Homo sapiens: one gene and its partner. The protein of the gene in region 2 interacts with the protein of the main gene of each other region in a biochemical or structural test. Each region holds a gene or a part of one and is shown on either strand. Other genes may lie near its edges.

Evidence for each region.
Region 1: the proteins of RWDD1 (region 2) and DRG2 form a complex in vitro, tested with the Homo sapiens proteins (one study listed by BioGRID).

Annotation. Positions count from the first base shown.
Region 1 is NC_000017.11:18,082,990-18,091,011, reverse strand, and holds the start of DRG2 (developmentally-regulated GTP-binding protein 2), read right to left. Parts: upstream 3,065-8,022; 5' UTR 2,989-3,064; coding exon 2,925-2,988; intron 1-2,924. UniProt on the Homo sapiens protein: Catalyzes the conversion of GTP to GDP through hydrolysis of the gamma-phosphate bond in GTP. When hydroxylated at C-3 of 'Lys-21' by JMJD7, may bind to RNA and play a role in translation.
Region 2 is NC_000006.12:116,595,504-116,598,473, reverse strand, and holds the end of RWDD1 (RWD domain-containing protein 1), read right to left. Parts: 3' UTR 799-2,970; downstream 1-798. UniProt on the Homo sapiens protein: Protects DRG2 from proteolytic degradation.

The DNA of each region.
Region 1 (8,022 bases), on a different chromosome or scaffold from region 2:
GAATTGATAGCAGTAAGAAATGGTCAAGAATGGGTTCTGCAGCTGGGCATGGTGGCTCATGCCTGTAATCCCAGCACTTTGGGGAAGCTGAGAAGGGAGGACTGCTTGAGGCTGGGAGTTCAAGACTACCCTGGGCAACATAGTGAGACCGTGCCTCTACAAAAAACATAAAAATTGGCCGGGTGGGGTGGCTCACACCTGTAATCCCAACACTTTGGGGAAGCTGAGAAGGGAGGACTGCTTGAGGCTGGGAGTTCAAGACTACCCTGGGCAACATAGTGAGACCGTGCCTCTACAAAAAACATAAAAATTGGCCGGGTGGGGTGGCTCACGCCTGTAATCCCAGCACTTTGGGAAGCCGAGGTGGGCGGATCAACTGAGGTCCGGAGTCCGAAACCAGCCTGACCAACATGGAGAAACCTTGTCTCTACTAAAGACACAAAATTAGCTGGGCGTTGTGGCACACACCTGGGAGACTGAGGCAGGAGAATCCCTTGAACCTGGGAGGCGGAGGTTGCGGTGAGCCGAGATTGCACCATTGCACTCCAGCCTGGGCAACAAGAGTGAAACTCCATCTCAAAAAAAAAAAAAAAAAAAAAAAAAAATATATATATATATATATATATATATATATATATATATAAATTAGCCCGGTGTGGTGGTGCACACCTGTAGTCCCAGCTACTCAAGAGGTGGAGGTGGAAGGATTGCTCGAATGCAGGAGTTTGAAGTTACAGTGAGCTATGATCACACCACTGCACTCCAGCACTCCAGCCTGGGCAACAGAGCAAGACTGTCTCAAAAAAAAAAAAAAAAAAAAAAAAGGATTCAGTGTCAGTCAGGTACACATGGCCCTTCCTGTCATCCCAGCTCCTAAAATTCTGAGCATCTCTGAAGGGAGGGACTAGGTCTTAATCACCTTTATATCTCCTTTGTCTACTACTGCCAAAGTGGCAGCATCTCTAGCCTCCCTGTGACTTTCCTTGGGTCTTATGGGTAATATGGAATATTACAGCAGCCAGAGGGAACTTTCAAGACAGAAGTCAGAATAGCCCCTCCCCTGCTTAACACCCTGCACCAGCTCCCACTGCCTTAGAACACAACCCAGAGTCTTTCCCATGACCTATGGCTCTGCATGATCAACCCCCTCCTGTCCCATCACTGCACCCCAGCCCCAGTCCTGTTGACCTGTAAACAGCCAAGTTTGTTCCTGCCTCAGGGCCTTTGCACTAGCTGCTCTTTCTGCCAGGAACCCTCTTCCCCCAGATGTTTGCGTGACCGGTTCCTTCTTTTCAATCAGGTCTTAGTTCAAATGCCCCATCCTCATGGTGGTCTTCTCTATCACTCCACCTAAGCAGACCCAATCCCCAGTCCCTCCCCACCCCCAATATTCTGCTGTATCACCCTGGTTTGTCTTCATAGCACATATTGCTGGCTGACATTATCTTATTTATTTGATTTCTAGTTTTCAGACCGTCAACTAGAAGATCAGATCCAAGGGCTGGGATATGCCTGCTGTGTTCACTGCTTTAACCACAGTGCCTAGCACATAGTAAAGGCTCAGGAAAGATCGGCCAGGCACGGTGGCTCATGCCTGTAATCCCAGCACTTTGGGAGGCCGAGGCGGGTGGATCACCTGAGGTCAGGAGTTTGAGACCAGCCTGGACGACATGGCAAAACCCCCTCTCTACTAAAAAAATACAAAAATTAGCCGGGTGTGGTGGCACGTGCCTGTAATCCCAGCTATTTGGAGGCTGAGGCAGGAGAATCGCTTGAACCTGGGAGGCAGAGGTTGCAGTGAGCCCAGATGGCACCACTGCACTCTAGCCTGGGTGACAGAACAAGACTGTCTCAAACAAACAAACAAAAAAGATTTACAGAAGGAATGAGTCATAGAGGGCCCTCAACTCCTTGGCCTTCAAACCTAAATGGAACCAAGGGAGGGCAGACACTGGGACCAGCTATCTAGTGTTGCTTGCTTCCTGCTCCCACAAGCCTGAATGGCTAGCCACTAGCCTGGCCAATTGCATCTCCCATTACTCTTCCATAACCCCCTTCTGATCTAGATTGTTCTCACTGTCCCATGAACATACCATGCTCACTCCCATGTCTTTGTCTCAGCAGTGGCCCCCACCTGGGATACCCTTCCAACAACCAGCTCAAGTCCCACTTTGTCCTGGTGTCATCGTTCTCTCCTCACCTCTCTTCTGTGAGCTCCTCCAGCCCTTACATTCTAAAGTCCAGATTTGAGGCTTCATTATGTATTATCTATGTTGGGGTGTTTACTTTAAATACTGAGTGCTCACCATGTGCCCAGTGCTTTGTAAAGGCCATCTAATTTAACTCAGCTGTGTACTAAGATGGAGCAGGGGAGTATTACCCCATTTACAGATGAGGACACTGAGACTCCAAGAAATGAAGTGACTTTCCAATGTTTTACAGAAGGTACGTGGTGGACCTGGGGCTCAAACCCAGGCCTTCCAGACTCCAGAGTCCTGATTCCCTTGCTCCAATGGGCTCTCAGCTGCTGGGTGAGGCTGTTCCTGAGAGGTCTCCTCTTGCACTTCCCAAAACAACAGAGTAGACCCAGGCCCCAGGCCCAGCCATCAGGAGACTGAGGTTTGAACCCCAGCTCCGCCTCTCTCTGGGTCAGATGCTTGCTCTGTGAGCTGGGACTACTCTACTCGGGCACACGGTCTGGGACTGACCAGATCTCTTGGGGTACGTTTGCAGTCAGACCTGGGCGTGAGACCCGCTCCCGCCTGGCCCTGCCTTGGGCGCGCAGGGCGGCCTCGGCACTTGTCTGGCAACTTCTCCGCGGCCTCGGATCTTGCCCCAGCATTACTGCTGGAGTTGTTCCCCCATTTTACAGACAGGAAAACTGAGGCAGGCAGAAAGGAAGGCCCCGCCCGGCCGGCCCTCACCCTTGTTCTTCTGTGTCCGAGCGATCTCCTTCTCGATCTCCGAGATCTTCTCTAAGATCCCCATGGTAGCAGCAGAGGTGGGCGCACAGACAGCGGTGGCGGCGGCACCGGCAATTCCGGTCTGACGGCGGCGACAGAGTAGCGTGCGCCCGGAAGCCAAAGAGAACAGCGTTCTCGTGGGCGCCTGGTGCTCCAGGATTCAGAGTCCGGGCGAGCCAAGTGCCAGACACTATCGGTTCCGCCCGCTGGGCCGGCCAGGCTGCGGACCTCTGGAAAGAGCCGGGGCGGGGCCGGGCCATGCTGTACTGGCCCACGGCTGCGGCTGGCAGGAGCAAGCAAGGAAGAGAGGGAATCTGCCCGTGTTGAACTCTGAACTGCGGGTCCCTGAGCGCAGCTGACTGGCAGTGTAAGGAAAAGGGGCTGAGCCGAAAGCCTAGTGGCTTTCATTTTATACTATAAATGGAGGTGTCCAATCTTTTGGCTTCTCTGGGCCACATTGGAAGAATTGTCTTGGGCCACACGTAAAATACACCAACACTAACGATAGCTGATGAGCTTAAAAAAAAATCGCCAAAAAAACCCTCAATGTTTTGGCCGGGCGCGGTGGCTCACGCCTGTAATCCCAGCACTTTGGAAGGCCGAGACGGGCGGATCACCTGAGGTTGGGAGTTCGAGACCAGCCTGACCAACATGGAGAAACCCATGTCTACTAAAAATACAAAATTAGCCGGGCGTGGTGGCGCGCGCCTATAATCCCAGCTACTGGGAAGGCTGAGGCAGGAGAATTGCTTGAACCCGGGAGGCGGAGGTTGCGGTGAGTGGAGATTGCGCGCCATTGCACTCCAGCCTGGGCAACAAGAGCGAAACTCCATCTCAAAAAACAAACAAACAAAAAACCTCAGTTTTTTTTTCTTTGTTTTAGTTTTGTTTTTTTGAGACGGAGTCTCACTTTGTCATCCAGGCTGTAGTTCAGTGGTGTGATCTTGGCTCACCGCAACCTCCGACTCCTGGGTTCAAGTGATTCTCCTGCCTCAGCCTCCCAAGTAGTTGGGATTACAGGCGCGTGCCACCACACTCGGCTAATTTTTGTATTTTTAGTAGAGACGAGGTTTCACCATGTTGGCCAGGCTGGTCACGAACTCCTGACCTCAAGTGATCTGCCTGCCTCAGCCTCACAAAGTGCTGGGATTACAGGCGTGAGCCGCTGTGCCCTGCCTAAATTTCATAATGTTTTAAGAAAGTTTACGAATTTGTGTTTGGCCACATTCAAAGTGGTCCTGGGCCACATGTGGCTGCAGACCTCAGGTGGGACAAGCTTGAAGAGGTTCAAAATGGATCCCCAAGATGCTGCCACTGCACTCCAGCATGGGCAACAGAGCGAGAACCTGTCTCAAGAAAAAAAAAGTGGATCCCCATACCACCTTTTTTTTTTTTTTTTTTTTTTTGAGACAGGGTCTCACTTGATCACCCAGGCTGGTGTGCAGTGGCGTGATCACAGCTCACTGCAGCCTCGACCTCCCAGGCTCAGGTGATCCTCCCTCCTCAGTCTGGGAGAAAATCAGCCACCGCGCCTGGCTGATTTTTGTATTATGTTGTAGAGATGGAGTTTCACCATTGTTGCCCAGTCTGGTCTTGAACTTCTGAGCTCAAGGAATCTGCCAGCCTTGGCCTCCCAGAGTTCTGAGATTACAGGCATGAGCCACTGCACCTGCCCCCCATACCACCTTAACGCAGTACTCCAACTCAGGATCACCTACCATCAGATGCCTCCTGATACGAAGCAGTGTAAAGTAGACAGCATCTCGTGACATTTTTTCTTAGACAGGCTCTCCCTCTATTGCCTAGGCTAGAGTGCAGTGGCGTGACTACAGCTCACTGCAACCTCAACCTTCCAGGCTCAAGTGATCCTCCCACCTCAGCCTCCTGAGTAATTGTGACTATAGGCCCGAACCATCATGCCTGGCTAATTAAAAAAAATTTTTTTTTGTAGAGATGGGGTTTCACTATGTTGCCCAGGCTGCTCCTGAACTCCTGGTCTCAAGCAGTCCTCCCACCTCGGCCTCCCAAGGTGCTAGGATTACAGGCATGAGCCACCTCATCTGGCTGACAGCATCTCTTATGTAGAATTCTTGCCAAAAATACTGTAACTGAGTTTAGGCATGAGGAAACATCAGATAAATGTAGAAAGTGGAACATTTTATAAGGCAATTGGCCTTGGTTCATCAAAATTGTCAATGACAGTGGCCAGGGGGTAAGTAGGGAGATTGTTCTAAATGAAAAAATGTTACGTGTGTGGAACTTGTCCAGATTCTGGTTGAAATTTTTATTTTATTTAAATTTATATATTTTTTTCTTTTTTTTTTTTTTTGAGACGGAGTCTCTCTCTGTTGCCCAGGCTGGAGTGCAGTGGCGCGATCTTGGCTCACTGCAAGCTCCATCTCCCGGGTTCACGCCATTCTCCTGCCTCAGCCTCCCGAGTAGCTGGGACTACAGGCGCCCGCCACCACACCCGGCTAATTTTTTGTATTTTTAGTAGAGACGGGGTTTCACCGTGCTAGCCAGGATGGTGTCGATCTCCTGACCTCGTGATCCGTCCGCCTTGGCCTCCCAAAGTGCTGGGATTACAGGCGTGAGCCACCGCGCCTGGCTATCTTTTTTTCTTTTTTTGAGACGCAGTCTCACTCCGTCGCCCAGGCTGGAGTGCAGTGGCACAATCTCGGCTCACTGCAAACCTCCGCCTCCCGGGTTCGAGCGATTCTCCTGCCTCAGCCTCCTGAGTTGCTGGGACTACAGGCGCCTGCCACCATGCCCGGCTAATTTTTTGTATTTTTAGTAGAGATGGGGTTTCACCATGTTAGCCAGGATGGTCTCAATCTCCTGACCTCGTGATCCGCCCGCCTCGGCCTCCCAAAGTGCTGGGATTACAGGCTATTTTTCTTTTTTTAGAGATGGGGTGTCTCTCTATCACCCAGGCTGGAGTGTAGTGTTATGATCATGGCTGACTGCAGCCTTGAACTCCTGGGCTCAAGTGATCCTCCAGCCTCAACCTCCCAAGTAGCTAGGACTACAGGCACATGCTACCATGGCCAGTTAATTCTGGTTGAAAAATTTAAAAGCACCTATAAAAAGACATTCTGGGCCAGGCGCAGAGGCTCACACCTGTAATCCTATCATTTTGGGAGGCCCAGGTGGGTGGATCACCTGAGGTCAGGAGTTCAAGACCAGCCTGGCCAATATGGCGAAACCCCATCTCTATTAAAAGTACAAAATTAGAGGCCGGGTGCAGTGGCTCACGCCTGTAATCCCAGCACTTTGGGAGGCCAAGGCGGGTGGATCACGAGGTCAGGAGATCGAGACCATCCTGGCTAACACGGTGAAACCCCATCTCTACCAAAAATACAAAAAATTAGCTGGGCGTGGTGGCGCACGCCTGTAGTCCCAGCTACTTGGGGGGCTGAGGCAGGAGAATCGCTTGAACCCGGGAGGCAGAGGTTGCAATGAGCCAAGATTGTGCCACTGCATTCCAGCCTGTGCAATAAGAGAGAAACTCCATCTCAAAAAAAAAAAAAAAAAAAGACATTCCAAGCTGGGTGTGGTGGTGTGTACCTGTAGTCCTGATTACTGAGAAGGCTGAGGCAAGAGGATCACGTGAGCCCAGAAGGTAAAGGCTGCAGTGAGCCATAATCACACCACTGCACACCAGCCTGGGCCATAGAGTGAGATGCTGTCTCTAAAATAAATTAAATAAATAAACAAAAATTTTGAATAAATAGAAAACATTCTGAGGACAATTTGGAAGAAATCTAACTACGAATTGGATATTGAATATTCTGGAGCTTACCAATTTTCTTGGTGTGATGATGTAAGCGAATGTCTTTATTCTTAGCAGATGTACATGCAGTATTTAGGGGTTGTCTTAGTCGGCTCAGGCTGCCATAGAATACCATGGACTTGGGCCAGGCGCGGTGGCTCACGCCTTTAATCCCAGCACTTTGGGAGGCTGAGGCGGGCAGATCACGAGGTCAGGAGATCGACACCATCCTGGCTAACACGGTGAAACCCTGTCTCTACTAAAAAATACAAAAAAAGAAAAAAATAGCCAGGCGTGGTGGCAGGCGCCTGTAGTCCCAGCTACTCAGGAGGTTGAGGCAGGAGAATGGTGTGAACCTGGGAAGCGGAGCTTGCAGTGAGCCGAGATCGAGCCACTGCACTCCAGCCTGTGTGACATACCATGGACTTAGTGGCATAAACAACAGACATTTATTTTCTCACATTCTGGATGCTGGAAGTCTGAGATCAGGATGCCAACATAGTTGCACTCCGGTGAGGGCTCTCTTCCTGTTTTGCAGAGGGCTACTTTGCCACTGTGTCCTCAAATGCCCTTTCCTTAGTGCATGCTCTCAGAGAGACAAGCTCTCTGGTGTCCCTTCTTACAAGGGCACCATGTCCATCATAAGCAGTATCTTACCCCATGAACTCATCCAACTCTAATTACCCCCATAGGCCCCAACTCCAAATACCATCACATCACAAACATTCAGTCCATAGTAGGTGTGACATCTGTACCTTACTCAACTAGTTCAAAGTATGTATATATGGGGCTGGGGACGGTGGCTCACGCCTGTAATCTCAGCACTTTGGGAGGCTGAGGCGGGTGGATCACCTGAGATCAGGAGTTCAAGACCAGCCTGGCCAACATGGAGAAACCCCGTCTCTACTAAAAATACAAAAATTAGCCAGGCATGGTGGCTCATGCCTGTAATCCCAGCTACTCCAGAGGCTGAGACAGGAGAATCGCTTGAAACTGGGAGGCAGGGGTTGCAGTGAGCCGAGATTGCGCCACTGCACTCCAGCCTGGGCAACAGAGAGAGGCTCTGTCTCAAAAAAAAAAAAAACCAAAGTAGGGCTGCTGCGGTGGCTCACATCTGTAATCCCAGCACTTTGGGTGGCTGAGGCGAGCGGATCACTTGAGGTCAGGAGTTCAAGACCAGCCTGGCCAACATGGTGAGACCCCGTCTCTACTAAAAATATGAAAATTAGCCGGTTGTGGTGGTGGGCACCTGTAATCCCAGCTACTCGGGAGGCTGAGGCACAAGAA
Region 2 (2,970 bases):
TTAAGTTGAAGGATTTATACGTTTTCTAATGTACTTTTCCATTTTGATTTTCCTACATAAATGGGCACTGTCAAACAATAAGAAATAGGAAATAAATAGGAAACTGGCCATACTCAAACAACAAAAATGCTATTAAAAATCTGAGATTTAGGATTGTTGAAAGGTTTCTCTTTTAAATAAACCCAAATCAATTTTCAGTTCCATCCTTCTACTCAAAGGTGTATTTGAAGAACTGATATATTATCTTATAATAATAAAAGCAGGAATATCAGTGATCTGGCAATTTTATTGGTGTTTTTAAGGTATAGTTATAATAAGAAAAATTTTAATTTATAAATGACATTGATAAAATAGCAGGTGAATAATTTTTCAATAATATATGTGCTAGGAAGGGGTTAGTTTCCATAGAATATAAGCTTGATATATAATTGAAATGACCTTTGCTCCCATCCGACTTCCTTGGACTTCCACAATATGGCTCCAACATGACTTTCTAGTCCTATTTTCTGGTAGGCACCTAACAACTATTGTTCTCCAGGAAATCTGACTGAAAGAATTATAAATATAATTTAAATATATGTATATTATATATATATAATATAATATAAACAAATAAAACTAATTTGTCGAAAGCAATTTGGAAATTGGCCTAAAGCTACTGAGAGAACGGTGGCAAATATGACTTTGATTGAAATGCCAAGTTCATCAAAACTGTAATTTCCCAATCACTAATTTTGTTGTTGTGAAGTTTATTTTAGTATTGGTATAAGAGTGTATCATGAGGTAGCTTTGCAACCCTTAGTCTTTGGCAAATATTTTATTTTTACCTGTTTTTTTAAAAAAATTTAAACTTAAAACACCTTTTATGTTTCCAATTTATTTGCAGCCAATAATCCCATGATGCATTGTTCATTATGTAAAAATTGAAAACAATCTAAATATTCAACAGTAAAGGATTTTCAGAGCTAAATACCCTTCATCTTTATGCAGGGAGATGAAGAAGTCAAGAAAACTAATGGAGACTACTCTTTAAAGGAGAACAGCTGCAAAGGCAGAGATAGGCAATAGCTATAAGAGGAAGGTCTAGGAAGTATTTTTTATGATAAGTAAATATGTAGTAGAAATAGCCAAAAGGTGGAAGAACAAAACTAAATATAACAATTATTTAAAAATTCATCATGTTAATTATGTAAGGAAATTAAAAAGCTTTGGTGGACTGAGTAGAACCTCTTCTCTCTCTCTTTCTCTCTCTTTTTTACTTCAATTACTTAAAAACATCACCACTAGTCTCTCTTTTTCTCACTTGCTATCTCTCCCCTCCCCTCACCTCCTTTGCAGCAACCCACTGCTATCTTTCTCCTCACTTGGTTCAGTATTCCTGGAATATTTAGCTGCATGACAGGATGAAGATCCACAACTAAATACCATTTAGCATTGATGGTTCAGTACCGTGGACAGCAGCACTCATGTTGGGAATGGGCCTTACTGAAATCGCAGAGTGACTTTGTAAGTTTGGTATATCACAGAATAAATTTGTTGGCGTGGCTACAAATGGATAAGGTGCTGGCCAGAATATTAAAATTCATGGCCGAATTAATTTTTTTTTCTTCCCTTCATGGAGGGGAGGAAAAAAAAAATTAACATTATCACAAAGAAAGGCTGGCGCATAGTAGCACTCAAATACCTTAATTGAATGAACTTTTCACCTTAATGATAAAGAGTGGCTCAATATGTAGGCGTATTTGATGGCTCTTTTAAAGTGATCATTCCAAATCAATAACTGCAAAAGAAATTTGTGTATTTTTTTACTGTGCTGTCCATGGTGTCAATGAATATAAGGTTGTCAAAAGTTGAACTAAAAAATGAGGACTGAGTTGAGATTCAGTCACTAACACAGGATAATGCAAATTAGTTTTAGATGTAAAATTAAAAACATCATTGGCTATTTTTATGACAAAATTTTAAAAGTCCTTTCATGGCTTTGTCCAACAATTTAAATGACCCCATCATCCATCCTCTGACACAAGTAACTTAAGTGAAAGGTTACTTGAAACTTCACCAATGGAGGCCTGAAAATTTAACAATATACTTTTCTGGCAGCATTCTTTCATCTTTGTCACCCTGATACAGTTCCTAAACAGAAAACAAACTAATGCTACTCAAATTTACATGTTTACATAAACTCACATTTCATGTGTCATCTGTTCTGAAGAGTCTTTTTCTAAAATTAGTTCCTACAGTTCTTGAAGTGTGTGACTCTCATTTTGACACACAATCATACAATGGCTCCAACTTTTGCTGCCTGACTCGTATGTCCTCTGAAAGACAAACATTAAGAGCTATGTGAAGTAGTTCACTTACTTTTCTGTTACACTTCATTACACCTAAAAGGGCTGCCACACAAATACTGAACACTTACAAATCATCTTCTTTCTGGAATACAAGAGTGCATCTCTTTGCTTCTTGGCACATGTATCTCTGGAGTATGACAGTACGATCAGTGAACTTGTCCTTTAAATTGATGAGATGTTATTATCACTCCTCTTAGTTTTACCCCAACTGGGAAATGTTCACATAACCATTTAGACGTGTTGCCTTAGATCAGCATTTATCCAACTTTTTCCCTAAGGCATCCACCTCTGCTGGCAAAAGTGCATGAAGTAAAGCAGGATCAAGGAACATTATTCCAAGTTGTAGATGGCAAATACAACATTTCTTTGAACTCTCATGCTTTACTTTAAAATACATTAGAATTAATTTTGCACTCTATTCTATAATTCATTCATTCAACAAATATTAGGGACCTACTGCATGCCAGGCATTATTACAGGGATACAGTAATGAATAAACATATCTGTGTTTGTTTTTAACCTAGTGACATTTTAATACAACTGGCACGAGTAGAAAAACAAAAACTTTACCAAATCAAAGAGCAAAACCGATAATCCAAGATGGAACAATTATTGCTTC